Homo sapiens: one gene and its partners. The gene in region 1 interacts genetically with each later gene. Each region holds a gene or a part of one and is shown in the gene's direction. Other genes may lie near its edges.

Evidence for each region.
Region 2: changes in EZH2 (region 1) and CUL5 together harm fitness less than expected from each alone (positive genetic interaction), as found in Homo sapiens cells (one large-scale study listed by BioGRID).
Region 3: changes in EZH2 (region 1) and HDAC8 together harm fitness more than expected from each alone (negative genetic interaction), as found in Homo sapiens cells (one large-scale study listed by BioGRID).
Region 4: changes in EZH2 (region 1) and DCAF7 together harm fitness less than expected from each alone (positive genetic interaction), as found in Homo sapiens cells (one large-scale study listed by BioGRID).
Region 5: changes in EZH2 (region 1) and SEC31A together harm fitness less than expected from each alone (positive genetic interaction), as found in Homo sapiens cells (one large-scale study listed by BioGRID).
Region 6: changes in EZH2 (region 1) and DAZAP1 together harm fitness less than expected from each alone (positive genetic interaction), as found in Homo sapiens cells (one large-scale study listed by BioGRID).
Region 7: changes in EZH2 (region 1) and SLC39A9 together harm fitness more than expected from each alone (negative genetic interaction), as found in Homo sapiens cells (one large-scale study listed by BioGRID).

Annotation. Positions count from the first base shown.
Region 1 is NC_000007.14:148,877,570-148,881,748, reverse strand, and holds part of EZH2 (histone-lysine N-methyltransferase EZH2), read left to right. Parts: intron 1-4,179. UniProt on the Homo sapiens protein: Polycomb group (PcG) protein. Catalytic subunit of the PRC2/EED-EZH2 complex, which methylates 'Lys-9' (H3K9me) and 'Lys-27' (H3K27me) of histone H3, leading to transcriptional repression of the affected target gene.
Region 2 is NC_000011.10:108,071,172-108,075,350, forward strand, and holds part of CUL5 (cullin-5), read left to right. Parts: intron 1-1,160; coding exon 1,161-1,291; intron 1,292-2,218; coding exon 2,219-2,326; intron 2,327-2,628; coding exon of another isoform or gene 2,629-2,706; exon of another isoform or gene 2,707-2,895; intron 2,896-4,179. UniProt on the Homo sapiens protein: Core component of multiple cullin-5-RING E3 ubiquitin-protein ligase complexes (ECS complexes, also named CRL5 complexes), which mediate the ubiquitination and subsequent proteasomal degradation of target proteins.
Region 3 is NC_000023.11:72,328,809-72,332,315, reverse strand, and holds the end of HDAC8 (histone deacetylase 8), read left to right. Parts: intron 1-1,439; exon of another isoform or gene 1,440-1,500; intron 1,501-1,547; coding exon of another isoform or gene 1,548-1,625; intron 1,626-2,239; coding exon 2,240-2,262; 3' UTR 2,263-2,800; downstream 2,801-3,507. UniProt on the Homo sapiens protein: Histone deacetylase that catalyzes the deacetylation of lysine residues on the N-terminal part of the core histones (H2A, H2B, H3 and H4).
Region 4 is NC_000017.11:63,574,028-63,578,206, forward strand, and holds part of DCAF7 (DDB1- and CUL4-associated factor 7), read left to right. Parts: intron 1-4,179. UniProt on the Homo sapiens protein: Involved in craniofacial development. Acts upstream of the EDN1 pathway and is required for formation of the upper jaw equivalent, the palatoquadrate. The activity required for EDN1 pathway function differs between the first and second arches.
Region 5 is NC_000004.12:82,817,769-82,821,947, reverse strand, and holds the end of SEC31A (protein transport protein Sec31A), read left to right. Parts: intron 1-839; coding exon 840-911; intron 912-2,694; coding exon 2,695-2,874; 3' UTR 2,875-3,439; downstream 3,440-4,179. UniProt on the Homo sapiens protein: Component of the coat protein complex II (COPII) which promotes the formation of transport vesicles from the endoplasmic reticulum (ER).
Region 6 is NC_000019.10:1,427,873-1,432,051, forward strand, and holds part of DAZAP1 (DAZ-associated protein 1), read left to right. Parts: intron 1-969; coding exon 970-1,123; intron 1,124-2,094; coding exon 2,095-2,124; intron 2,125-2,349; coding exon 2,350-2,490; intron 2,491-4,179. UniProt on the Homo sapiens protein: RNA-binding protein, which may be required during spermatogenesis.
Region 7 is NC_000014.9:69,450,435-69,454,613, forward strand, and holds part of SLC39A9 (zinc transporter ZIP9), read left to right. Parts: intron 1-2,806; coding exon 2,807-2,875; intron 2,876-4,179. UniProt on the Homo sapiens protein: Transports zinc ions across cell and organelle membranes into the cytoplasm and regulates intracellular zinc homeostasis. Participates in the zinc ions efflux out of the secretory compartments.

The DNA of each region.
Region 1 (4,179 bases):
TTGGCCAGGCTGGTCTCGAACTCCTGACCTGAAGTGATGTACCCGCCTCCGCCTCCCAAAATGCTGATCCAGACGTGAGCCACCACGCCCAGCCTAGGATAAAAATTTCTAACTTTGCCCTTGAGTGTTCTCTGTATTTGATAATTACTATTCTTTGTACTTGCCATGAGATATTTTGAAAAACATCTCTTTGGGGAATTGGTTTAAAAATTCATATTAAATTATTTTCTGGTACAATTGAGAATGTATTTAGTCAGTTTAAGTAGCAGTGACTTAAAACACACTTGTTGATCTAGTGTAGTTAGAAAAAGTTCTGATACTTTGATACCTAGCTTTGCCTTGCACAAATACATTTAAGTGAATATCTTTATGTTGGCCATTTAAAAATTTTAGGCAAATTTCTCCAAGTCATACTGGAATTTTCCCAGGATACCTTCCTTCTTTTGAGGTAGTGTGCTCAAGGATTCTGAATTTATTTCAGTATTACCCTTTACATGAGCAGTGATTGAGAAAGTTGATCTGCTTTTTAAAAACCAACAAGGACAAATCCTCCAATATAATGTATTCTGTGGTTAATTAGCAATGATTTATGGATTAGCCTTGAAGTCTTTATATCAGTATAGATGACAAATTTTCTGTAAATCATGATAGATTCTATATGAGTAGGTGAAATCTTCGGGGGAGAGCATAAGTGAACAGCAGCAATTCATTAAATTCAGAGAAAGGTTCATGGTCAGATGATACATACTTTACCTTCTGGAGGTCTTCCCTGAATTCCCACTCTTGTGTTCCCACAGGGTTTTATCATATTTTATTGTAGCATGACTCAATTGTATTGTAATCACTTGTTTATGCATCCCTCTCTTCCCTACAGTCAAAGTGCCTCCTGGTAGAGGCTCTGTCTTATTTTTTTCTTTGTATACCTAGTACCTACGTTGGTATTTGCTAGAGAATAGGGGTTTTAAATATAGTTGAATGAATTAAGGAAATATGAAAAATGTAGGGAAATAATTTGACAAAGGAACTTGCAAAGTGAACAGGATATGTTAGTATTCATGTGAGGAACTTTGAAATGTGTTTTTCTCCCTCTTTAATAGGGAATGATTACAAAGAAAAATAGTTGTCAAGGTGAACAAGTTCCAAGTTTTTCCTAGTTATAATCTGTAGTACTAAACATTAGATATCCTTTAGATGCAACTATTACACTCGGACAACTGGAGAGAACTTGATGAATCATCTGGATATTTAGTAATAGTATTTGCTTAATTTGATTTAATGTTGATATTGATGATCTCTTTGCAAAAATATAAGGAAGGGAAAGGGCGAGAGAGGGTAGTAGATCTTTTAACTGAAAAGCTGTTTTGTTATAATTCATGAGTTCTTTATTGGAGTAAATTGAGGTAGGTTTTGGAGCTAAAACTGAAGGATGTAGCGACAGTGTAATTGGATCATTTATTGGGATGCTTTTCATCATTCTTTTAAAATGATTTAAATACAGATTAGCAAATTTAGTGATACCTCAAAAGTTACAGCTGGTAAATTTCTAAGATAGTTGCACCATTCCATATCTTGCCACTGTTCCACTACTTGGTATAAAAATATGACAAATTTGTGTTTAGATTATGTGGTTAGCAGTTTCTTAATAATTGGTCTTGTTTTCCATTAACAATAGCAAGACAGAACAAGATCATAGCTCACTGCATCCTTAAACTCCTGGGCTCAAGGGATCCTCCTGTCTCAGCCTCCTGAGTAACTGGTATTACCAGTGCACACCATTGTGGTGACTTATTTAATTTTTTAATTTTTTGTAGAGATGGGATCCTGCTTTGTTGCCCACGTTGATCTCAAACTCCTGGCTCCAGGCAATCCTCCTGCCTTGGCCTCTTAAAGTACAGGGATGACAGGCTGAGCCATTGTGTTTGACCCAGATACTTTTTTTTTTTGAGACGGAGTCTCGAAAGTGATTCTTGTGCCTCAGCCTCCTGAGTAGCTGGGACTACAAGCGTGCGCCACCACGCTCGGCTAATTTATTTATTTATTATTTATTATTTATTTTTTTGAGATGCAGTGTCACTCTGTCACCTAGACTGGAGTGCAGTGGCACCATCTTGGCTCACTGCAACCTCCACCTCCTGGGTTCAAATGATTCTCCTGCCTCACCTCTCAAGTAGTTGGGATTACAGGCATGCACCACCAGGCCTGGCTAATTTTTGTATTTTTAGTAGTGATGGGATTTCACCATGTTGGCCAGGCTGGTCTCGAACTCCCGACCTCAGGTGATCCACCTGCCCTGGCCTCCCAAAGTACTAGGATTACAGGCGTCAGTCACTGTGCCCAGCCTCCGATAATTTTTATATTTTAGTAGAAACTGGGTTTCACTGTGTTGGCCAGGCTGGTCTGGAACTCCTGACCTCAAGTGATTGACCTGCCTCGTCCTCCCAAAGTGGTGGGATTATAGGTGTGAGCCACCACACCCTGCTGTGTTGTTTTTGTTTTTGTTTTTTGTTTTTGTTTTTGTTTTTTGATATGGAGTCTCACACTTGTTGCCCAGGCTGGAGTGCAGTGGCGTGATCTCGGCTCACTGCAACCTCTGCCTCCTGGGTTCAAGCGATTCTCCTACCTCAGCCTCCCGAGTAGCTGGGATTACGGGAACGCACCACCACACCTGGCTAATTTTTGTATTTTTAGTTGAGATGGGGTTTCACCACGTTGGCCAAGCTAGTCTCGAACTGCTGACCTCAGATGATCCGCCTGCCTCGGCCTCCCAAAGTGCTGGGATTACAGGCGTGAGCTACTGCGCACGCCTGGCCTGGATACTTTTTAAACATTTTTAAATTAAAAATTTTTTTTTGGAGACAGGGTCTTGTTGTCACCCAGGCTGGAGTGCAGATGCGTGATCTCAGTTCACTGCAACCTCTGCCTCCTGGGCTCAAGCGATCCTTCCATCTCAGCCTCCCAAGTAGCTGGGACTACAAGTGCATGCCACCACGCCTGGCTAATTTTTGTATTTTTTGTAGAGACAGGGTTTTGCCATGTTGCCCAGGCTGGTCTTGAACTCCTGAACTCAAGAGATCCACCTACCTCAGCCTCCCAAAGTGCTGGGATTATAGGTGTGACCCACTGCACCCAGCTTTTGTTTTTAATATTTGTAAGAACCACCTTGTGTCTGCCAACAGGCGAATTAACAAAATGTGGTATATAAACCAATGAAAACATAAAAGGAGTGAAATAAAGACGTAAAAGGAGTGAAATTTCAAAATAAAAGTAAAAAGATTTCAAAATAATTCAGACATAAAAGGAGTGAAATTCTGATACATGGATGGAGCTGGAGAATATTATGCTTAGTGAAATAAGCCAGATACAACCTTTTGTACAAAAATACAAAATTGTATGATCTCATTTATATGAGGTAGTTAGAAGAGGCAACTCTATGGAGACAGAAAGTAGAATAGAGGTTACCAGGGCTGTGAGGGGAGAGGTGAATGGGGAGTTTAATGAATACAGAGTTTCTGTTTGGAATGGTGAAAAAATTCTGGAGATGGATAATAGTGATGGTTGAACAATATTTTGAATATATTTAATGCCACAGAATTGTACACTTAAAAATGGTTAAAATGGTAAATTTTACACGATATGTATCTGTATCTATATATATCTCTCTCTATATCTATATATCTTACCAGAATACAAAATTTAATAACACACTCCGAAAACCTTTACAGATGAGGAAACTGAAGAAAACTGTCTACAGGGGAGGAGTTAAGAATTTGCCCAGGATTATTCAGCTGGGAATTTGCATTCGGGATCCAAACTTAGTTCTGTTTCACTACATATTATCTACTCCATATTATCTGTTCTGTGTTATCTGCTGGCTTTCTGGGTGATTAAAGATATGTCAGCTCCGAGAAGAATGAGTTTATTTGAATCATTCAGAAAGTTACATTTAAAAGTAGGTAATTGTAGTTTGATGGAAGGTACAGTGTGAAACCCTAGACAGACTAAAGGTTAACTTTGAGGATTTCTTTCTCAGCCAGAGTGGTAATAGTATGCATTTGAGAGGGGAGGAGAGTAGAGTTCTAAGGATGTGGTCTTTGGAGACAGTTTCTTGGGTTCCAGTCCCTGAGCTACCAATTTGTGTCTGGGGTGTTATCCTCTTGATGTCTTAGCATCCCTATCTGT
Region 2 (4,179 bases), on another chromosome or scaffold:
GATATGGCTGTATATGTAGTATTACAACTACCTTATGAAATAAACTAATCTTGTGTGTAAATAAATATTCCTTTGCACTGAAAACCAAATGACTCACCTTTTCTTTTGAGACTGGGTCTCGCTGTGTTGCCCAACCTGGAATTCGATGGCACGATCACAATTCACTGTAGCCTTGACCTCCTGGGCTCAAGCGATCCTCCCACCTCCCAGCCCACTGAGTAGCTGGGACTACAGCCGTGTACCACCATGCCTGGCTAATTTTTGTATTTTTTGTAGAGGCAGAGCCCCACCTTGTTGCCCAGGCTGATCTCCACTGCTTCTGGCCAAATGACTGACCTTTTAAAGAAAGGAGTTGGGTTTTGCAGTATTTGATCACTTTTTTTATTTTTATTTTTTGAGACCGTCTTGCCCTGTCACCCAGGCTGAGTGCAATGGTGCAATCACGGCTCACTGCAGCCTCAGCCTCCTGGGCTTAGGCATTCCTCACACTTCAGCCTCCCAAGTATCTGGGACCAAAGACATGCACCACCACACCCAGCTAATTTTGTTTGTTTGTTTTTGTGTAACGATGGGTTTTGCCATGTTGCCCTGACTGGTCTTTTTAACTCCTGGGCTCAAATGATCCTCCCACCTTGGCCTCCCAAAGTGCTGGAGTTACAAGCGTGAACCACCACACCCAGCCTGATCACTTTTAATTCGATTTTTTTTTAAACATAATTTTTAGACTAAGTACAGTGGCTCATACCTATGATCCCAGCACTTTGAGAGACCAAGGCGAGAGGATTGTGTGAGCCCCGAAGTTTGAGACCAGCTTGGGCAACATTGGGAGACCCTGTCTCTACAAAATTACAAAAAACATTAGCCAGGCATGGTGACATGTGCCTGTGGTCCCAGCTACTCAGGAGGCTGAGATGGGAGGATTGCTTGCGCCCAAGAGGTCAAGGCTGCAGTGAGCCGTGATCGAGCCACTGTACTCCAGCTTGGGTGACAGACTGGGACCCTGTCTCAAAAACAAAAAAACAACAACAAAAAAACGAACAACTACTCCTAATGGCATTGTATCCACAGAATACTATTAACATTACAAACTTAACTAATGTTTCTCTAAACTCTTACTCTAGTAAATGAAATGATTACATGAATGTGTTCTCTCCTTCCAGAATTACATTTAATGTTTTCATTGATGGACAAAGTTCCTAATGGTATAGAGCCAATGTTGAAAGACTTGGAGGAACATATCATTAGTGCTGGCCTGGCAGATATGGTAGCAGCTGCTGAAACTATTACTACTGTAAGTTTTTTTTCAATGGCAATGATAGATATATATCAAGGCTATTTTTTAAATGTAGGATTATTGAAAATAGTGAGCGGTTACCAGAGGCTGGGGGTTGGGGGAGCAGAAGAGGTTGGTTAGTGGGGTATAAAGTTATAGTTCAATAGGAAGAATAAGTTTTGGTGTTCTATTACCCATTAGGGCGGATATAGCAAGTAACAATGTAGTGTATATTTCAAGATAGAAGAGATTTTTTATGTTGTTACCACAAAGAAATTATAAATGTTTGAAGTGATGGATATAGTAGTTACCCCAATTTGATCATTATAGTATATACATGCATTGAAATATAACATTGTACCCCATAATATGTACCATTATGTGTTGATTACAAATAAAAACATTAAATTTTTAAAAATACAGAATTGAAAATTGAAAATAGTAATTGAAATTACTATTTTCTCTGTAAAACAGGGAGCTGGGCAAGGTGGCTCACGCCTGTAATCCCAGCACTTTGGGAGGCCGAGGTGGGCAGATCACAAGGTCAGGAGATCGAGACTATCCTGGCTAACATGGTGAAACCCCTCTCTACTAAAAATACAAAAAAAATAGCCAGGCGGGGTGGCGGGCGCCTATAGTCCCAGCTACTTGGGAGGGTGAGGCAGGAGAATGGCGTGAACCCAGGAAGTGGAGCTTGCAGTGAGCCGAGAAGGTGCCACTGCACTCCAGCCTGGGCGACAGATCGAGACTCCGTCTCAAAAAAAAAAAAAGGAAGAAAGAAAAAAGAAGTGGCAAAACAGTAATATTGGAACACCTTTTAGTTTTATTTTTAAGAAAAAATATCCCCAGTTTTAAATGAGTTTTATTAAAATTATGTTTATTTTCTCATTTTTTTGTGTTATTCTTTTTCTTTTAAAAACTTAATGTAAAACCTTTTGTTTCTAGGACTCTGAGAAATACGTTGAGCAGTTACTTACACTATTTAATAGATTTAGTAAACTCGTCAAAGAAGCTTTTCAAGATGATCCACGATTTCTTACTGCAAGAGATAAGGTATATATTCCTATATATATAAAAAACACTTTTAAAAGTTTTATTCTCATAATTTACTTCTAATAATCAATTTGCATTATTTTTCTATTAATTATAAACTTAAAAACCTAGCAACTGTTATTTTTCATCAGTGGAGAACAACTATATTCGTTTTGTCTTGGCTGTAAGCATTTGTTAAACATTAGATAGCCTTGTGAATTAGAATTTAGTTAGAAAGTTGCTTTTTTCTCATTTTTCCAAGAATGTTTTTCTGTTTTTGAATATTACTGATCTATTGAATTCCTATTCATCCTTCCATTAAGACCCAGCTCAAAGAATACTTCCCCTGGAGCTTCCTTGATGTCCTGCCTCCCTCCACAGCTCATCACCAGCAGAGTTGATTCCTCCATCCTCCGTCCTTTCATGGGACTCCTTCGGGAGTTATGTTATACTTATCCTTGTTTCCCAGGGAAGCATTTGTATTGCATACCATCTTTTTCCATCCTCACTAGTATAGGATAATGATAATAAAACACCATACTGTCCTTAGCATTGTATCTTTTTTAGTGTAATAAACCTATAACAAGAAATTGCTGTTAGTTTTTTCTCTTCTTTGACTACCTTTCGTTACTTCCCAAGTTTGAATGATTCTAAAAAGACAACTTTCTCCATTCTCCAGTAGGATTTTTTTCTCACTCTTTTTGTCTATTTTAATTTTTTTTTTTTTTTTTTTTTGAGACTGAGTTTCGCTCTTGTTGCCCAGGCTTGAGTGCAATGGCATGATCTTGGCTCACTGCAACTTCTGCCTCCCAGGTTCAAGCGATTCTCCTGCCTCAGCCTCTCGAGTAGCTGGGATTACAGGGACCAACCACCATGCCCGGCTAATTTTTGTATTTTTACTACAGACGGGGTTTCACTGTGTTGGCCAGGCTGGTCTCGAACTCCTGACCTCAGGTGATGGGCCCGCCTCGGCCTCCCAAAGTGCTGGGATTACAGGCCTGAGCTACTGTGCCCAGACTCTTTTTGTCTATTTTAAAACAAGTAAATAGGCCAGGTGCAGTGGCTCACGCCTGTAACCAGCACTTTGGGAGGCCAGGGCGGGTGGATCACCTGAGGTCGGGAGTTCGAGATCAGCCTGATCAACATGGAGAAACCCCATCTCTACTAAAAATACGAAAAATTAGCTGGACGTGGTGGTACATGCGTGTAATTCCAGCTACTTAGGAGACTGAGGCAGGAGAATTGCTTGAACCCAGGAGGTGGAGGTTGTGGTGAGCTGAGATCGTGCCATTGCACTCCAGCCTGGGCAACAAGAGCGAAACTCTGTCTCAAAAAATAAATAAATAAAAATAAAACAAATAAGTAGGTAAAGTAGGAAAGGAGTTAAGGGAGTATAGACATGGTGGGCGTGGTGTGAAGTCTTAAATTGAGTAGCCTGCAAAGGCTTCATAGGAAGCCAGATCATGTAAGACTCTGAGCCATGGGAAGGAGTTAGTTTTTACTGTGAGTAGGATGGGAAGTCATTTAAAAATTTTAAACAGAATGGTAGAATGTGATTTATGTATTAACAGGATCATTCTGGCTGTTGTAAAAAATATACTGAAGGGAAGAAGGAAGAAAGAATACCAGTTAAGAACTTATTTAAATAATTCAATTAAGTGATGATGGAGGCTTGTCCCAGAGTGATGGTAGAGGTGGTCAAAAGTAGTTCGATAATTTTTTTTTTTTTTAATGCAAGTAGCTTATTTGGGAAATGCAGGGACGATAGCGTGGCGTATTAGTAAGTCAGATCTACAGTGAGCTACTTGAACTTAATTCTGCAAGGAAACTTATTTAAAACCCTGCTCAAAATTACCTCACCTATCAAGTGTTGA
Region 3 (3,507 bases), on another chromosome or scaffold:
TCCCAGCAATTATTCTGTTGAGCATTTGTCCCAGAAAAATGAAAACTATGTTCACACAAAAACCTGTATGTGAATGTTCATAGTGGCTTGATTCTATAGCCAAAAACTGGAAATGACTCAGGTGTCCTTCAGCAGATAAGTAGTTAAACAGATTGTGCTACATCCATACTGTGGAGTACTACTCAGCAAAAAGAAGCAACAAACTTGATACACACCACAACTTGGATGGATCTTAAGAGCAGTATGCTGAGTGAAAAAAGCCTATCTATCTCAAAAGTTTATATACTGTATGGTTCCATTTCTATAACATTCTCAAAATGACCAAATTTTAGAGAAGGATAACAGATGAATGGTTGTTGGGACTTAGGGATGGTGAAGGAGGAGGGATGGGAATGACTGTAAAGGAGGTAGAGGAGGGAAATCTTTGTGGTGATAAAATAGTTTCGCATCTTGATTGTGGTTGAGGTTACATGAATCTACACTTGCGATTAAATGGCCTAGAATTATACACTTATACACACACAAATGAGTGCTTGTAAAACTAGTGACATATTAATAAGATCTGTGAATTGTACCAATGTCAATTTCCTGACTTGGATATTGAACAGTAATTATGTAAGATGTTAACATGTGGGGAAACCTGGGGAAGGGTGTGTAGAACCTCTCTGCACTATTTTTTTTTTGCAGCTTCCTGTTATTCTATAATTATTTTAAAAGTAAGAGCTCAGTACAAAAAAGGAATGAACTTCTATTGATACATGCACAAATCTGCATGAACCTCAAAGGCATTATGCTGAGTAAAAAAATAAAATAGCCTATCTTAAAAGGTTACAGACTGTTTGATTGCATTTATATGGCATTCTCAAAAAGACAACACTACAGTGATGGAGAACAGATCAGTGCTTGCTAGGTGTGGGGGAGAAAGGAAGATGTGATTGCAAAAGGATAGCACAAGGAGATTTGAGGGGTTATGGAACTCCTCTCTGTCATGAATCTATACATATGTTTAAAATCAGATCTGCACATGCACAAATGTCAATTTTACTGCAGAATAAAATTTAAAATAAAAGTAGATAGGCAAGGCCGGGCATACCTGTAATCCCAGCACTTTGGGAGGCCGAGTCGGGTGGATCACGAGATCAAGAGATCGAGACCATCCTGGCCAGCATGGTGAAACCCCATCTCTACTAAAAATACAAAAATTAGCTGGGCATGGTGGCACACACCTGTAGTCATAGTTACTCGGGAGGCTGAGGCAGGAGAATTGCTTGAACCCGGGAGATTGCAGTGAGCCGAGACCGCGCCATTGTACGACAGCCTGGGCAACAAGAGCAAAACTCCATCTCAAAAAAAAAAAAAAAAAAAAAAAGATAGGCAAGTAGTTTGTTTCTGACTTGTTTCTTCTTTCCTTCCTTCCTTTCATTCGTCCATTCATTCAGCCATTTACTGAGCACCTACTATGAGTGAGGCACTGTGCAAGACTTTGGAAATCAACCAAAAGTAAGACAGCCAGGCCCTGCCCTCAGGGAGCATTGTTTCTGTTTCAGAGAAGTGGCCAGTAGGGTTTGGAGCCCAGTGTTTCTACTTGGGGAAGTGTGGCAAGGCAAAGACTACGGAGGGACAAAGTGAGCAACTTTTCATTCCTAGAGCCCAGTCCGGTAGGATTTCAAATGATCACTTTTCCCTCAAAGACTCTTAGGCCTGAGATCAGAGGAAAGCCCCCAATCCGTGTTTCACAGGTACTCACAAGAGAAAATGCTAGGAGGGTTGTGCCTTGCTAAGGGAAGGAAGAAAAGTTGGGGGTGGGGAGCATGAGATTTGATGCAGTTAGTAAAGAATGAACTCTGAAAAGTGTTACGAGAGAGAGAGAGAGACTTAAAACAACCATTTGTTTAGCTCATGACTCTATAGATTGGCAATTGAGCTGAGTTCAGCTGGGTGGCTCTTCTGGTTCTGGCTGGATACACCCAGCATCTGCAGTCAGCTGGCTGTCAAAGGCCTCGATCACATGTCCAGTAATTGGCTGGTGGTTGCCTGGGTGACAGGGATCTCTGGGCCATTTGTTTCTCATCATCCAGCAAGCTATTCTGGTCTTGTTCCTTATGGCGAGGTCACAGAGTTCCCAAGAGCAGCAGAGAATAAGCCCCAAAATATAAGTGCTTTTTAAAAAATAGCTCTATTGGGGTATAATTCACATACATTACCTGACTTTGAATTTTGTTTTCTCCCCTGTTTGCAGGGAATCTGAAGCATGTGGTCTAGTTGACAGAAAGAGATCAGGTTTCCAGAGCTGAGGAGTGGTGCCTATAATGAAGACAGCGTGTTTATGCAAGCAGTTTGTGGAATTTGTGACTGCAGGGAAAATTTGAAAGAAATTACTTCCTGAAAATTTCCAAGGGGCATCAAGTGGCAGCTGGCTTCCTGGGGTGAAGAGGCAGGCACCCCAGAGTCCTCAACTGGACCTAGGGGAAGAAGGAGATATCCCACATTTAAAGTTCTTATTTAAAAAAACACACACACACAAATGAAATTTTTAATCTTTGAAAATTATTTTTAAGCGAATTGGGGAGGGGAGTATTTTAATCATCTTAAATGAAACAGATCAGAAGCTGGATGAGAGCAGTCACCAGTTTGTAGGGCAGGAGGCAGCTGACAGGCAGGGTTTGGGCCTCAGGACCATCCAGGTGGAGCCCTGGGAGAGAGGGTACTGATCAGCAGACTGGGAGGTGGGGAGAAGTCCGCTGGTGTTGTTTTAGTGTTATATATCTTTGGTTTTTTTAATAAAATCTTTGAAAACCTACCTCTTTGTCCCGTTGTCTTCATTGTAAAGCGCCACTGACAGCACACACAGTTCTGAACTTTTCTTCTCGCTGAAGTGTCAAGAATAACCCTGTTCCTTCCAATCTCTACTCTGGCCCGGCTTGAGAGTCTGACCTCACTGGGGAACTAGTGTGTCCCTAGCCCAAGTTCTTGGGACAGAAGGCCAAGCTCTGTGTTGCACTGGGGCTGTCCATGGTGGGGTAGGAATACTGGCACTGCAGTCATGGAGAGGGGCTTATTGGCACCCTGGGGAGGAGCTGTCCCTGTCCAGGGAGTGATTTAGGGATGGAAAAGGTGTGTTGGCATGTCAGATCCAAGAGGAGCACTTCCATGGATAGAAAGGATGCTTCCCAGTAGACAATTGGCACATAATGAAAAGGGGAGGAAGTTGTAATGTGTGGTGTTACTGCAACCTCTGGGGAGTTGGCAACATGGAAAAATGGGGATGGGAGATAATGGGAGAGATGAGGAAGAGACAACTAAATGTCATGATATTGTAATTTTATTTACCAAATATTTACAAAGCTCCTTCAACTAACTACTGGGACCGGGACGGCAGACAAGCACACAGCCCCATCCATCCTGGCTGTCTAGGAATTCCCAGACAAGGCAAGGGAGGAGAAAAAGAAGCAGATCCCAACATGTTTCCAGCTCTGTTATCAACATGAGCTCAGAGCTGTGGGAGCA
Region 4 (4,179 bases), on another chromosome or scaffold:
AGCCTACCCTCAGCACACCTTCCCAGCTGCATCTCCGCTGCACTCCCACGTGGCTCTCTCAAACAGGCCTGCTTGCTGCTATCAAATGGGTCATTTAGTTTGCCACCTTTGTATGTGTGACCCTTCTGTTCTACCTACCTGGGATGCCCTTCCCTTTCCTATTTGCCTACCCAGATCCTTCCTATTCTCCTTTGAAGACTCTGCTCAGATGCTTACTTTTTTCCTCAGGTGCCCCATTTGAATTATTGCTGTTTCCTCTCAATTGTTATCGATTATTATCTGTGTCATAAATAAGAAGCCAATCATGTATTACCTTGTGACATTACTTGCATTGCTATCTTAAGTGTTTTAGGACACTGGGTTTTGTCTCCTTTTACATCTTTATACGTTAACTCCCCTAACAATTATATGATTGTTGAAAGTCTGTGGGTGCTCCATAAAATGAATATTTAGACTTAGTCATATGGATTTTTAAGAGTTAAACATGGATGACAAGATCTATGAATATATGTAGAAAAATCCTTAGGAATCTACAAAAAAGCTACTAAAACTAATAACTAATGTAGCAAAGTTATAGAAGCCAAGATTAATGTACAAAAATCAGTTGTATTTCTATATACAGTACCAATGAACAATTGGAAATGGAATTTAAAACAGTTTCATGGTCAAGCACAGTGGCTCATATGTGTAAGCCCAGCATACTGGGAGGCCAGAGTGGGTGGATCACTTGAGCCCAGGAGTTCAAGACCAGCCTGGGCAACATGGCAAAACCCTGTCTCTACAAAAAATACAAAAATTAGCTGGGTACGGTGGCTTGTACCTGTAGTCCCAGCTACTTGGGAGGCTGAGGTGGTAGGATCAATTGAGCCTAGGAGGTCAAGGCTGTAGTGAGCTGTGATTGAGCCACTACACTCCACCCTGGGTGACAAGCAAGATCCTATCTTAAAAAAAATAAAACACAATTTCATTTATAATAGCATAAAACTTGTGTAGAAATCAAGTTAATGGGCCAGGCGCAGTAGCTCATGCCAATAATCCCAGAACTCTGTCAGGCTGAGATGGGCAGATCACTTGAGGTCAGGAGTTTGAGACCAGCCTGGCCAACATGGTGAAACCCTGTCTCTACTAAAAAATACAAAAAATAAAAATTAAAATTAGCCAGGCGTGGTCACGCACGCCTATAATTCCAGCAACATGGGAGGCTGAGGCAGGAGAATTGCTTGAACCTGGGAAACGGAGGTTTCAGTAAGCGGAGATCATGCCCCTACACTCCAGCTGAGGCGACAGAGCGAGACTCAGTCTCAGAAAAAGAAATAAAGAAATAAAATTAATGAAAGAATCATAAGAAGTACACTGAAAACTTTAAAACATTGCTGAAAGAAATTAAGGCAGCCGGGCGTAGTGGTTCACGCCTGTAATATCAGCACCCTGAGAGGGCGAGACAGGCAGATCACTTGAGGCCAGGAGTTAGCGACCAGCCTAGCCGACATGGCAAAACCCCATCTCTACTAAAAATACAAAAATTGCCTGGGCGTGGTGGTGCGCACCTGTAGTCCCAGCTAAGGCATGAGAATCACTTGAACATGGGAGGCAGAGGTTGCAGTGAGCCAAGATCGTGCCACTGCACTCCAGCTTGGGTGCTAGAGCGAGACTCTGTCTGAAAAAAAAGAACTTAAAAAAGGCGTAAATTAATGGAGAAATGTGCTATGTTTATGCGTTGGAAGACTTAATATTGTAAGATGTCAGTTCTCCCCAGACTGCTCAATAGATTCAACACAATCCCAATCAGAATCTCAGCAGGCTTTTTGTAAAATTCGACAAGCTGATTGTAAAATGTACATGGAAAAGCAAAAGTAGAGAATAGCAAAACAATTTTGAAACAGAAGAACAAAGTTGGAGAACTCACTGTCTGATTTTAGAACTTACTAGAAAGCTACTATAATCAAGACAGTTTGCCTACTAGCAGACAGATAGGCAAATAAATAATGGAACAGAATAGAGTCCAGAAATAGATGAATAAATACATGGTCAACTGATTTTCAATAAAGGGGTCAAGGTAATGCAAAGGAGAAAGAATTCTCAACCAATGATGCTGGAAGAGTCAGACGTTCATATGTAAAAAAGCAAACCTTGTTCGGGAGCTGTAGCTCACGCCTGTAATCCTAGCACTTTGGGAGGCCGAGGCGTGTGGATCACCTGAGGTCAAGAGTTCGAGACTAGACTGGCCAAAATGGTGAAGACCCTTCTCTACTAAAAATATTAAAAAATTAGCCGGGCGTAGTGGCACATGCCTGTAGTCCCAGCTACTTAGGAGGCAGAGAGGTAGGAGAATTGCTTGAACCAAGGAGGTGGAGGTTGCCGTAAGCCAAGACTGTGCCCATTGCACTCCAGCCTGGGTGACAAGAGCAAAACTCCGTCTCAAAAGGAAAAACAACAACAAAAAGCAAACCTTGATTCATATCTTGTACCATATAAAAATTTAACTTGAAATGACTCAGAGACCTAAATATGAAGCCTAAAACTAGAAAACTTTTAGAAGAAAACAGGGAAAAATATTTGGGACCTGGGATTAGGCAAAGATTTCTCAACTAGGACATAAAAAATTTTTTGGGTGCGGTGCTTACGCCTGTAATCCCAGCACTTTGGGAGGCCAAGCCAGGAGGATCACTTGAGCCCAGAAGTTCGAGGCCAGCCTGGGCAACATAAGGAGACCCCATCTCTACAAAAAATTTAGAAATTAGCTGGGTGTGGTGGCACATGCCTGTGGTCCCAGCTACTCAGGAGGCTGAAGCTGGAGGATTGCTTAAGCCCAGGAGGTTGAGCCTGCAGTGAACCACGATTGCACCACTGCACTCGAACCAGTGCAACAGAGTGAGACCCTATCTCAACAACCCAAAATTATACTGCCACATTGCACATAATGCAATATTATTCAGCAGTAAGAAAAGAAGCAACTACTGATACACACAAGAACATGGATGAATCTCAAGAGCAGTGTACTGATGAAAGTAGCCAGACACAAAGACTCAAGACCATCTGATTCTATTTATATCGTATTATGGAGAGACAAAACCATAGATCAGTGGCTACTTGGGGTAGGTATGAGGGGTTGACTGCGGAGGAGCCTGGGAGAGCTTTCTGGGTTAATGGAAATGTTTTATATCTTACTGTGGGGGTTATACAACTGTACATTTGCCAAAACTCATTTAACTGTACACTTGAGTGGGTTTTATTATATGCAACTATACCTAACTTTGGGGGGAAAATGTCTGGAAGATACTGGTGTGTCTGAGACTGAGGTCAGAAAGATGAGTAGAAGGAATTTTATTTTGTGTTGTCTGGTTAGTGCTTTTCCCCTTATTGTGGATGTTTACCAAATATCCCCACTATTCCATCTTCCAGTTGGAAGTTCATAAGCAAATGTACAGTTAGTGTCCCATTGAGCCAGATTGAGTTTGACAGCAAAGATTGGAAGTTAATGGTGGGCTAAAATTGACTCTAAGAAAAAGTGATCAGAGCTAGGTGGGACTTTCTCATCAATGGCGCCGACTTTTTTTTTGCCAGTCACAGTGGTTTGGGCTCTCAAACGGTCATTTGACATACCTTTATGTGTAAACATAATGAGCCAGTGTTGAGTTTGGGGTTGGTGAGGGTTGTGCACTATTGGATTTTTAAGTGAGCATTAGTTTGTTTAATGAAATTGCAAAGGGTGTTTCATATTCCTGGCCCCTGAGCACCAAATGTCCTCAGCACTTCAGTCATTGTGGCAGCCAAGAACCACCCCTGGTCATTTTCAAATACCTTAGGGGTTTCAGGGGAAGGTGTGCCTGGCCTGGCAGATAGTGCACTTATGTAGTTGGAGTCAAGAATGCAGACTTGAGTCAGAAAACCTGTAATCTCTGTCTCCTACTGGCTTTGCAGTGTTGAGTGTAACCACCCCTTTGAGTCTGGGTGTCCTTGTCTGCCAGAGGATGGTTGGACTAGATACCCTCTCATGGCAATCGTTTTTGATTCTGCAGTTTAGTGTAGTACAGTGTCAAGACTTCTGTCACTGGCCAGGCATAGTGACTCATGTCTGTAATCCCAGCACTTTTGGGAGGCTGAGGTGGGAGGATCAGTTGAGCCCAGGAGTTCAAGGCCAGCCTGGGCAACATGTGAGGCCTTGTCTCTACAAAAAAT
Region 5 (4,179 bases), on another chromosome or scaffold:
TCTTGGTGCTTTAAAGGCTTAGAAAAAGGCAGGATTAAACAAATGTAACTAAGTGTTTAAGTAGTATTTTTGAAAGGTTAAAACAAGATTCCACAGTTCACCTATATGTTTGCCTTCTACCACCCATAATCGACAATAACTACTTAGACCTTCTTTTTTGTGATACACTGACCCATTGCTGCCTCCTGATGCTTGTGAATATAGTGCAAGCAAACATGCATATATACCTTATCAAGTGAGTTTGCAGTTCATATGAAATCCAATCAGTACTCTTTCATGCACTGGAAGTAAGTCTCATCCTCTCCTCATCCCAGTCCCCTCCACCCTCCACCCTTGATAGATGATTGATCTCTGTTCTAATAATCTGTTCAAGTTTCTTTTTTTTTTTTTTTTTTTTTTGAGACGGAGTCTTGCACTGTCGCCTGGGCCTGGAGTGCAGTGGCGTGATCTCGGCTCACTGCAACCTCCACCTCCTGGGTTCAAGCAATTCTCCTGCCTCAGCCTTCCGACTAGCTGGGATTACAGGCGCCTGCCACTACGCCCAGCAAATTTTTTGTATTTTTAGTAGAGACAGGGTTTCACCATGTTGACCAGGCTGGTCTCAAACTCCTGACCTCATGATTTGCCTGCCTTGGTCTCCCAAAGTGCTGGGATTACAGGCGTGAGCCACCACGCCCGGCCATAATCTGTTCAAGTTTCTTAGTTGTAGTTGCCTCCATTTCTTTATAAAATGAAGCCATTCAACATTTTAAGTATAAGGTTTAGTGCAATGAGATAGGGCAAGTTCTTAGGTTAAAAGTTAATGTTCAAATATAACATCTATTTTTTCTTTCCTGCAGCAAACCAAGAGGAAGCTAGATGATGCCAGCAAACGTTTGGAGTTTCTGTATGATAAACTTAGGGAACAGACAGTAAGTTTTGGAGGAAAAGGATTTATGATAATCATTTATTCCTAGTTGCTAGTAAAACAGTTGTCTTATCAGCACTCCCATTTAGTATGCATGGGGGCAAAATTGTCATGACATTTAGAGAATGGGCATGGCTGTGTTGAATCATAAATTCCACTCACTGGGGTTAAGGGGATACGGGTGTGTGTGTGTGTGTTTGTGTGGGTGTGTTGAGAGAGACATTTTAACCCTCTCATAACAAGAGTATAAATACAAACTGGCCTGTGTTGGCCATAAGGTAGCTGACCTTCTGCTGTTCCTTTTATATGGCCCAGTTACAAGAAATCAAAGAGTATGCAGATACTCTGTTTTCCAGGGACTAAATCTATAATCTTTATCATAGTCTAAGACTCTTGACCCTTTTCTTTTAGGATAGCCATTATACAAAAGCAAAGCCAAATGTAGCCACAAGATGAATAGGGTAATGTGCTGTAACTATGAAGATAGCCAGGAGTAAGAAGTCAGTTCACTACGTTTGTTCTCTTGTCCCCACCTCACCATTCTTTTCTAAAATTGTCTTGTTTTATTAATGAAAGCACTAGGAAAGGAGAAGAAAAAAAGAAGTGGGACTTTCTTTTTATTTTTTCCATTTCAGCATTCCTCTAACCCATTCCCCACACTCAGTTCCATCAGATGAAAATAACCATTTCTCTCATGAGAACCAAACTAAAGAAAGTTGATATAACAGTGGAAGTAGTGTGGTCCTTGGACTGATCCAAAATAAAGTCTTCTCGGTGGGCACAGTGGGATATGCCTGTAATCCCAGCTACTGAGGAGGCTGATGCGGGAGGATCACTGGAGCCCAGGAGTTTGAGACCAGCCTGGGCAACATAGCAAGACCGCATTTCCAAAAAAAAAAAAAAAAAACAGAAGATACAATTAGCGTATACATCTAGATGAGTATATATTAAAACATTTTTTAAAAATGAGATCAAAATAGGCCAGGCATGGTGGCTCACGCCTGTAATCCCAGCACTTTGGGAGGCTGAGGCGGGCAGATCACCTGAGGTCAGGAGTTTGAGACCAGCCTGGCCAACATGGCAAAACCCCGTCTCTACTAAAAATACAAAAATTAGCTGGGCATGGTGGCACACGGCTGTAGTCCTAGCTACTCAGGAGGCTGAGGCAGGAGAATCGCTTGAACCCGGGAGGCGGAGGTTGCAGTGAGTCGAGATCGCACCACTGTACTCCAGCCTGGGTGACAGAGTGAGACTCCATCTCAAAAAAAAAAAATCCAAATAAAGTCTTCTGTAAAGTATGGACACCTATGCCAAGTAATGACATAGTAAAAAACTACAGGTTTTATAGTTTTAAGAGATGACAGGATTATAAAAAGCAGGTAAGAATTAGTAAATTTGGGCCCTTCCTTTGAGATATTATGATTAAGAATCTTTAATCTCCTTTTTGTGCATAGGAGAATTTTTTAAAGGTCTGAAGCTCTCTTAAGTGGAGAGAGAAATTAGCATTTCAGTTTGGAGAGGAAATCGGGCTGCTTTTCTGTAAGAAAATACCTGGCTTATACATGTATAATTCATAAATAACTTATTTATGTAAATCATTTTGTTGTGGTTGTACTTGATAACTGTTGCTTGGTTCAAGAAACTTTCTAGAAATGCTAAATGGTTTATATATTTTTATAATGTTTGTTTCAAATTCCACTTAAATATCTGGGTTTAATGTTTATGGAGGATCTCATGGGAAGTTATCCCTTAATTTAATTCTTTCTCTTGGTTCACTTTTGTTTCAGCTTTCACCAACAATCACCAGTGGTTTACACAACATTGCAAGGAGCATTGAAACTCGAAACTACTCAGAAGGATTGACCATGCATACCCACATAGTTAGCACCAGCAACTTCAGTGAGACCTCTGCTTTCATGCCAGTTCTCAAAGTTGTTCTCACCCAGGCCAATAAGCTGGGTGTCTAAAAGGACAGCTTCTCTTCCACTCAATATTGCCATTTTTCCAAAGAAACATGTTAAAAAAAAAAATTATAAGACATGGACTAGTCCTCATTAGCATGTTTGCATAGCAACCAGTCAAGAGCATTTACACTATTTCTGCTGATATACTCACCTTAGAACTGCTCAGAACCCTGGTGCTTTATTTTTGTTTTAATCTTTTGTTGCCAGTGATGATTTTCCTATTCTGCAAATAGTGTATTTCCTGGATTACACATAGTATGGTTTCCTGAAGTATTCTGATAAATGTGTTTTTTAAAACCTCAATATACTTTTTAGAAAAGGAGCATCTGGTTATGCATAAAGCAGAGCTAAAACTAAATTTCTTTCATGTCCTCCCTACTTCCTCAGTGTCAATCAGATTAAAGTGTGTAATCCTATTTTATGTGTGTATAGTCTTTTTTGAAACAGCTGCTTAAAATTTAGTTTATTTTTTGTGTCTTAGGATTCCTGAGTAAATAACTACATCTACAAACTGCTACATGGGTTTTAGCAGATATTAATAAAAATGGGATCACTGGCTTTAACTATATAGGAAAAGACTGGACATTTTTGTTCTGTAGAATGCATTGAGCTTTTTTCTATTTGTAAATGTTTCAATATTCTGTTTGAGTTTTAAGACTAAATTGTGTCCATTTTATAGCTAGAAATTTTTTCACCTATTTTGTTTAAATTACCTATAGCTGTGCCAGGCATGGTGGCTCACGCTTGTAATCCCAGCACTTTGAGAGGCCGAAGCAGGCAGAGGTCGGGAGTTCGAGACCAGACTGGCCAACATGGAGAAACCCTGTCTCTACTAAAAGTACAGAATTAGCCGGGCGTGGTGGCGCATGCCTATAATCCCAGCTACTTGGGTGGCTGAGGCAGGAGAATTGCTTGAACCCGGGAGGCGGAGGTTGCGGTGAGCCGAGATCACGCCATTGCTGTCCAGTCTGGGCAATAAGAGCAAAACTCTTTCTCAAAAAAAAAAAAAAAAATTACCTGTAGCTTTGAGGTTTAAGTTCAGAAAGAAAGCTTTAATTTCAGTCAGCCTGTAAATCAAAGCCACACATTTTGCACCCAGTTTTTCTGTCAAGTGACTTTATTATCATCTGTCTTAAGAACAGTGTGGTAAGGCCGGGCGCGGTGGCTCACGCCTGTAATCCCAGCACTTTCAGAGGCCAAGGCAGGCGGATGACCTGAGGTCAGGAGTTCAAGACCAGCCTGACCAACATGGAGGAACCCCATCTCTACTAAAAATACAAAATTAGCCAGCCAGACGTGGTGGCACAT
Region 6 (4,179 bases), on another chromosome or scaffold:
CCCAAGGCTGACTCCAGGTGGATCCATTGTCTCTTTATTCTCATTACGATTTATCAGAAAAGTGAGACAAATTCAGGATTCTCAAATGCTGAGGCAGCCCCGGAATTGGGGGGATCTTTCTGTTGTTAGTCCACCCATATTTTCAAGCAGGCATTAAAGGAAGGTCAGCCACTGCGCCTAGAATAAGTAGGTCAGGCCTGCTCCATCCATTGTCCCCGGCCCCGCACCCTCCTCCTGAGAAGACTGTGGCTCCTGACACGTCTAGAGAGGAAGGGCCCCGGGCTGCTGAGCGAACACAGTATGAAGATTGCTTACTGATCCAAATGTCCATTTTATTGCATGTTTGTTACTTTTTTTGTTAGATGTAATGTAAGATTCTCTTATCACATCCATTCCCTCTGACATTAGTTTTGAGTTAATTGAGATTCTTTAAGCGTTAGCCTGGGGAAGGTAAGTCTTTATCTTCCATTAGACATTTTAAATTTAAAAATCTAAGTAAAACACCAGCCGTGTTTCTCAGGTATGAGTTAAAAGCACAGGTGGGCGGGCTCCAAGCAGTCCAGAGGGCGATGAGGATGCCGATTGCTGGGAAGATCCTGGTCCCTTTTTGTCCCCATGTTTTCAAGAGGAAGGAGGACGCTGCCATTTTACTTGAGTGAAAGACCCTTCGTCACGCACGAAACCCCCGAGGGCTCTGGGCTCGGTCCTGCTGCCCCGCAGTGGGCGGGCTCTGTGTGTCTTACGGTTGCATCTGTTGTACCTGAGAAACATTTTTTAAACAAAAAAATTCAACACAAAAGAATTTTTTAAGAAAAAAATGCTACTGGCCTAAATAAGGTTTATAGTTAAGTATTTAGTCTTAAGTTGTAAGATGCTAAGTGTAGTCATAAGTTACCCGAGGGTGTGTCTAAAGGGAAGGGGGTGCTGGGACCCGCAGCCTCGCCCTAAACCAGAGCTCGGTTTGTTTAGGTGGAAGTTAAACGAGCTGAGCCTCGGGACAGCAAGAGCCAAGCGCCGGGACAGCCAGGTGCCAGCCAGTGGGGGAGCCGGGTTGTGCCCAACGCTGCCAATGGCTGGGCAGGCCAGCCCCCGCCCACGTGGCAGCAAGGATATGGCCCGCAAGGTAAGGCTGATGCAGAGGTGCCCACGGGAATGTCCCCCTTCTCGGACTTGGCCCGCGCGCCCTGGGCTGTGCCGTCGCTGCGGCCTCCCCACCTCTGCTGTGCATGCACAGAGCCGCGGTTCACAGTGTCCTTGAGCCCCCGCGAGGTGCCGGCTGACAGCCAGCTCCCGGGCAGCACCCGCAGCCTCCTCAGTAGCGGGGTGGCCACGGCTTAGGTGCCCGTCCGGGGCCTGGGACTCATTGTCACCGGGAAGAGCTGCAGTGAGCGTCTGCACCTCGCGACCGTGTGCCACGGCAGGTCTGAGCACGAAACCCTGAGAGGGCTGGCATTGCCAAGCTGAGCTCAGAATCGGGGTGCTGCCCCTGGGGGGCTTGAGGAGCCGGCAGGCTTTGGATCCTTGCCACCTGCCGTTCCCTCTGCAGTGCCGTGGGCCCTCTGTAGTTAGGCCCACGTTGTGGGCCGTCCTTGGAGCTTCCAGCAGCCACGGAACCCCTGGGCTTGGCTGCAGCCCGACCCGAGTTGTGGGTCAGGGTTCCAGATGTACGTCGTCCGGGTCCCGAGACTGTGGCTTCCCTGCACCTCGTCTAAAACCTTTTTCTCTGGAGCCTCCCTTGTTGGAAACTCGGAGGTGCTGTGGGGACTGTCCCTGCCCTCTCGAGGCTTAGAAGTCTCAGGTTTCTCTGGGGTCCTCAGGTGGAGCCGGGAGGTCACCCGTGCCCCAGTCAGCAGACACAGTGCCCGCCACCTGGCAGGGCACAGAGGAGAGTGGCTTTAAGGCCTGTTCTACAAGGGGTGGGGAGTGCTTCTCTGCTCAGGGTTCAGAGGGCTCTGCCCTCAGGACGAACAGGCTCTAAGCACAGGAGGCTCCGGGGTTGGTCCCAGCCCTTGACGTCCATGCTCTGCGGCTCCTTCTCTGCGTCGGACAGCTGGTGGACACGGCGCCAACCTCCTCTTCTGTTCTCTTATCTAGGAATGTGGGTGCCGGCAGGACAGGCGATTGGTAAGTCCTTGTTTATAGAGCAAAGGCGGGGACAGAAGCCACATGGCAGGCTGACTCGCCAGGTGTCCTGGGGCAGCCGGCAAAGCCTGGTTCCCGTGTCCTGAGTGCTGGAGAGGAAGAGAGGGTGAGGGGCCTGCTAGGGCCCCTGGCAGGCCTGGGTCTAACTGTGGCCAGTCTGTGTTGTCCAGCGCTCTCTGTCCATCACCCCCGTACTGTGTGTTTCAGGTGGCTATGGACCGCCCCCTGCAGGAAGAGGAGCCCCCCCGCCACCCCCACCGTTCACCTCCTACATCGTGTCCACCCCTCCTGGAGGCTTTCCCCCTCCCCAGGGCTTCCCTCAGGGCTACGGTGCCCCGCCACAGTTCAGTAAGTCTAGGGGGCCTTGTGGGAGGGCCTCCCGCCTGCTCCGGAGATGCCAGGTGGTGGGCGGGGTGATGGGGAGTCTTGTGTTACACGTCTGGCCTCAGCCACAGGTGGGGTGCCGGCTGGTCAGCAGGTCACCTGCCACCAGGCCCTTCACCTGCAGATGGGCTCCATCGCCTGTGGCCTCGCTGGTTAGGCTAAAGGGCAGCCCGGGCTCCTGCGGGTTGGAGAGCTCATAGCAGGAATGTCTGGGCCCAACCAGTTCTCACAGGCTCCTCAGGAGACAGAGCCTGGACTTCGTGTCTTAGCCTCATACTTCAGGATTAGGGGGGCATTTGTTTAAGGGTGTACAAGCTCTAATTGTTTTTTTTTTTTTTTTGAGATGGAGTTTCACTCTGTAGCCCAGGCTGGAGTGCAGTGGCGCAATCGCGGCTCACTGCAAGCTCCGCCTCCTGGGTTCACACCATTCTCCTGCCTCAGTCTCCCGAGTAGCTGGGACTACAGGCGCTCGCCACCACGCCCGGCTAATTTTTTTGTATTTTTAGTAGAGACGGGGTTTCACCATGTTAGCCAGGGTGGTCTCGATCTCCTGACCTTGTGATCCGCCTGCCTCGGCCTCCCAAAGTGCTGGGATTACAGGCGTGAGTGACTGCGCCCAGCCTCACAGGCTCTAATTCTTGACTAATTTTCCTGTACACGTCACTTGTAATTGAAAAGCTGAGTGTAAGATCAGCCGACACACCCAGAGTTTTATTTTATTTTATTTATTTATTTATGGTTTTTTTTTGAGATGGAGTCTCACTCTGTCGCCCAGGCTAGAGTGCAGTGGCGCCATCTCGGCTTACTGCAAGCTCCACCTCCTGGGTTCACGCCATTCTCCTACCTCAGTCTCCTGAGTAGCTGGGACTACAGGCGCCCACCACCACGCCTGGCTAATTTTTTTGTATTTTTAGTAGAGACAGGGTTTCACCGTGTTAGGCAGGATGGTCTCGATCTCCTGACCTCGTGATTCGCCCGCCTCGGCCTCCCAAAGCGCTGGGATTAGAAGCGTGAGCCACCGCGCCCGGACTATTTTATTTATTTTTTTGAGATGGAGTTTCACTTTTGTTGCCCAGGATTGAGTGCAGTGCCCCGATCTTGGCTCACTACAACCTCTGCCTCCTGGGTTCAAGCGACTCTCCTGCCTCAGTGTCCTGAGTAGCTGGGATTACAGGCGTCTGCCACCACGCCCGGCTAATTTTGTATTTTTAGTAGAGAACAGGTTTCACTATGTTGGTCAGGCTGGTCTTGAACTCCTGACCTCAGCGCATCCAGAATTTTAGACGGGGCCCCCAGGGTGAGGTCTTGGCACCCTCCAGTAGAGAAGAAGGGACATGGGCCATACGTGGGGTGTCCTTTCTGGGAGCCTTGCGTCCCTTACCTGCCTAGCCAGGGATTGCACCTCACAGCACGCAGCCAGCAGGAACGGCACCGTGATCTGATTTCACCTGCGGGCCCTGGGCCCTGGGGGTGTTTGACAATTGGGGCATATCACAGTGTGAGCTAGTCCCGTCTCGGGGGTTTGGAGGCTCCACGTGGCCGTGGTACAGGAGCAGGCAGTTCCATCCTCTGGCCTGGATCAGGCTCTGCACACGGAGGCCTGTGGGCCAGATGACTGACAGGAGGGGAGTTGGGTGGAACCTCGGCCTGCCT
Region 7 (4,179 bases), on another chromosome or scaffold:
TTTAACGAATGATTTTTTAAAAAAAACCTGATTCTAAAGATATATATGGTGATTGTCAGGCCAGTCACAATGGTGCACGCCTGTAATCCCAGCACTTTGGGAGGCCAAAGTGGGAAGATGGCTTGAGGTCAGGAGTTTGAGACCAGCCTGGACAACACAGCAAGACCCATCTCTACAAAAAAGTACTTTAAAAATTAGCCAGGCATAGTGGCACTTGCCTGTAATCACAGCTACTCAGGTGGCTGAGATGCGAGGGAGAATCATTTCAGTTCGAGGCTGCAGTGAGCTGTGATCGCACCACTTCACTCCAGCCTGGGCAACAAGCAAGACTCTGTCTCTAAAAAAATAAAAATAAAATGTGTGGGCGCAGTAGTAGCCAGTAATCCTATACAGAGAGTTAAATGTAGCTTGTGTTCCATTATTCTTCTTCCTGTTTTATCTCTGAAGTCATTATTTTTGCTGGCTTTCGTGTCTGATGACCTGGTTTTACCTATTTTCTGCAGAGTTTTATGTATTATAAAATGTCAATAAAATGTATTTATTAAATTTATGCTAAACTGCAGTCTTTATAGGTTTATAAAAACTTTCTAATTTTAAAGCCTCTAATTGTTTAAGATCCTAAGTATAACTGGATGATAAGCCTTTGTATAAAAAAAGGCCAGAGCCAGCTTGCACACAGTGTAATTTGACTGTTCCTTCCAGTTCAGGGTAGCATTGAGCTATTTGCTGGCGCAGAGTGATTAGGGTCTTTAGCTTCCCTTCTTTGCAGTGTTTTAATAGGAAAATATCATTTATTAATAAGAGGTAATATCTTACTTTACTTGTATACTTTTTCCATTGTAAACCCCTTCCTTTTGTATGCTGGACTCCTAAGAAGATTAAATCCCCTGTAACTTACTTGACTGATGTTCATCTGTCATTTTACCTGGCATTTTGATGTCCCCATCTTTTAACTTTATTTACTTGTATGTTTCCTACAAGAGCAGTAACATCTTTATTTAATACACATAAATGCTTTTTTCACTCTTCAGCAAGGATTTATTAAGTAACTATTGGGTGCCTAGTGCTGTGCTACATTCTGTCAGACATGTTAAAGGAAAAGAGAGGTAGAAAATTTAATGCTTTAGCATTTACAGTCCATCTGGGGATAGAAAACATTCAAGTGAAAATGGCTTTGTATATCTGAGGTGGTGTATAGAGGAACCTTTGAAGACTGCCTGCATAGATCACTAGGTCTAGGCAAGGGGAGAGTTGCTTTGAGCTGGAATCAATTTTTTAAATTTATTTTTAATTTTTCTTGAGACAAGGTCTTGCTCTGTCACCCGGGCTGGAGTCCAGTGGCATGAGCATAGCTTGTTGCAGCCTTAAACTCCTAGGCACAAGTGATCCTTCCACCTTAACCTCCTAGATACCTGGGACTACAGGCATGCACCACCACACTTGGCTAAATTTTAAAAATTTTGTAGAGATAGGGTCTTGTGATGTTGCCCAGGCTGGTCTCAAACTCCTGGCCTCAAGTGATCCTCCCCCATCGACCTCCCAGACTGCTGAGATTACAGGCATGAGCCACCATGCTTAGTCTTCAATTTTTTATTCTTTCTTGAGGGAAGTGGTTCTGTAGTTAGACTTTGATTGATGTCCAAGTTTTGGCTTAACAAGCTGAGAAGTTCAGTATGTGCCAAGAATTACAGGTGAGGAGACTTGGGGAAAGGAGAATAAGAAGGTTTTGTTCGATGGTGTTAAGCAAACTGGTTTAACTAGACTGGACATTGAGAAATAAGTTGGAACTAGTTGATAAAGGGCTTAAGAACCTATCTAATATAGCAGTTTGCCCTGAATTTGAAAAGCAGCAGATTCTTAAATGGTAACTGACACATCATAAGGGTGGTGGGTTTTTTGTTTGTTTGTTTTTGAGACGGAGTTTCACTCTTGTTGCCCAGGCTGGAGGGCAATGGCACAATCTCGGCTCATTGCAACTTCTGCCTCCTGGGTTCAAGCAGTTCTCCTGCCTCAGCTCCCAAGTAGCCGAGATTACAGGCGCCCGCCACCATACTCAGCTAATTTTTATATTTTTTAGTAGAAACGTGGTTTCACCATGTTGGTCAGGCTGGTCTCAAACTCCTGACCTCAGGTGATCCACCTGCCTCGGCCTCCCAAAGTGCTGGGATTACAGGTGTGAGCTACTGTGCCCGGCCAAGGGTGGTGTTTTCAAACGATGAATCTGACACGGATGTGTAAGATTAATTATATTAGGGAAAAATGAGAGTAGGGAACCTGATGCTAATTTAGGTTTGAGTGATGAAAATTTAGGTTAGGGTGATGGCAATAAAAATGTGACAGATGTTAGAATGAAGATAAAGTTGCAGGATGCTAAGGAAGAGATAGACAATGACAATTAGATTGGTCTGGAAAGAAATGATCAGAGGCCATAGATCACTTTCCTTGGAATAGTAGAGGAAGAGGATTAAGGAATAGGAGGAAGTTGGGGCCATTGGGGGTTACACATTTCAGTGATTTTTCTGTTAAGGTAGGGCTGAGTCAAATGAAGAGTTCCCTCTTAGCCACCTCTTCAGGACAGGGAAATCTTCTAAGGGTTTGAAGCAGAAAGAAAAAAGATAGTGGCCGGGTGCGGTGGCTCACGCCTATCATCTCAACACTTTGGGAGGGTGAGGCGGGCGGATCATTGGAGGTCAGGAGTTTGAGACCAGCCTGGCCAACATTAGTGAAATTCTTTCACCTCCAGACCAATGTTTGAACAGTTTCTGTCTCACATAGCTTAACGCTGTCTTTCTCATTTTCACTTTAGATCCAGAAGCAGCAAGGTCTAGCAATTCCAAAATCACCACCACGCTGGGTCTGGTTGTCCATGCTGCAGGTAGGGTTGGATTGCAGTGGAACTTCTTTGTTTTCTATCGCACAGGGGAGACCTTAGTGTTTATATTTCAGGGACCGTCCTCATTGAATGCTCTTGGACTGGCCTTTGAGGAAAAGGTTTCTTAATGAAGTCCTCCAACACAAGCACAAGCTTGGTGTGCTCAGTGTCAGGGGTTTGCAAGCTAAGAATGGTTTCTATACTTTTTAATGGTTTAAAAAAAAAAAGAGAGAGAGGAACATACTGTAGCACATGAGAATTATATAATTCAAATTAAGGAAGTTTTATTGGAACACAGCCTTGCCCATGTATTTATGTATTGTTTGTGACAGTGAATTTGATTAGGGAAAAATGAGAGTAGGGAACCTATTGCTGATTTAGGTTTGTTTGAGTGATGAAAATTTAGGTTAGGGTGATGGCAATAAAAAATGGAGAAAGGCAAATGTGACTGATGTTAGAATGAAGATAAAGTTGCAGGAGGCTGAGGAAGAGATAGACAATGACAATGATCCATCTCTTTTGTTTTTGTGCAACAGTGGCAGAATTGAACAGTTGCAAGAGACCAAATAACTGCAAAGCCTCAAATATTTACTGTCTAGCTCTTAAGAAGAAGTTTGCTCTTTTCATTCTTGGCTCTAGAATGTCATCTGGAAAAGAGCCTTGGCGCTTCTGTCCTGAACAGCTCTGTTACCAGTTTATATGCAAAACACCAGTTTAAGCAGAAGTGGTATGCAGTGGAATGCAGAGATCTTAGCATTGCTGACAGGGTACACTTTAGAATCATAACCCAAACCTAGTCCTAGTAATAGAATTCTGTCAGTGGCAAAGAAAGGCATGTGAAAGGTGGTACACTGTTACCTGGCCCTTTCTAAGTATAATATGCTTTTCTAACAAATTTCATTCATTCAACCAGTGTTTACTTATTAAGTAGTAATCATCTATATAGAGTTCTAGTATCTTTATTTTATTTATTTCTTTTTTTGAGACGGAGTCTCACTCTGTTGCCGAGGCTGGAGTGCACTGGCACGATTCGGCTCATTGCAAGCTCCACCTCCCGGGTTTAAGCAATCCTCCTGCCTCAGCCTCCCAAGTAGCTGGGACTATTTTGTTTCTTAACCTATAAGATTAAGAGATGCTTCCTTTGAAATTCTTCTTTGGTATTTCCCTTGTTAGAATTTGATTAACTAATCAATGGATTTTTGATTAGTTGGAAAATTGAATGTTAGTTTTCCAATAACAACAACAGCAACCAAAATAACTAACATTGAATACTCTGGGCCAGATGCTATGCTCTTTACATAAGTTAT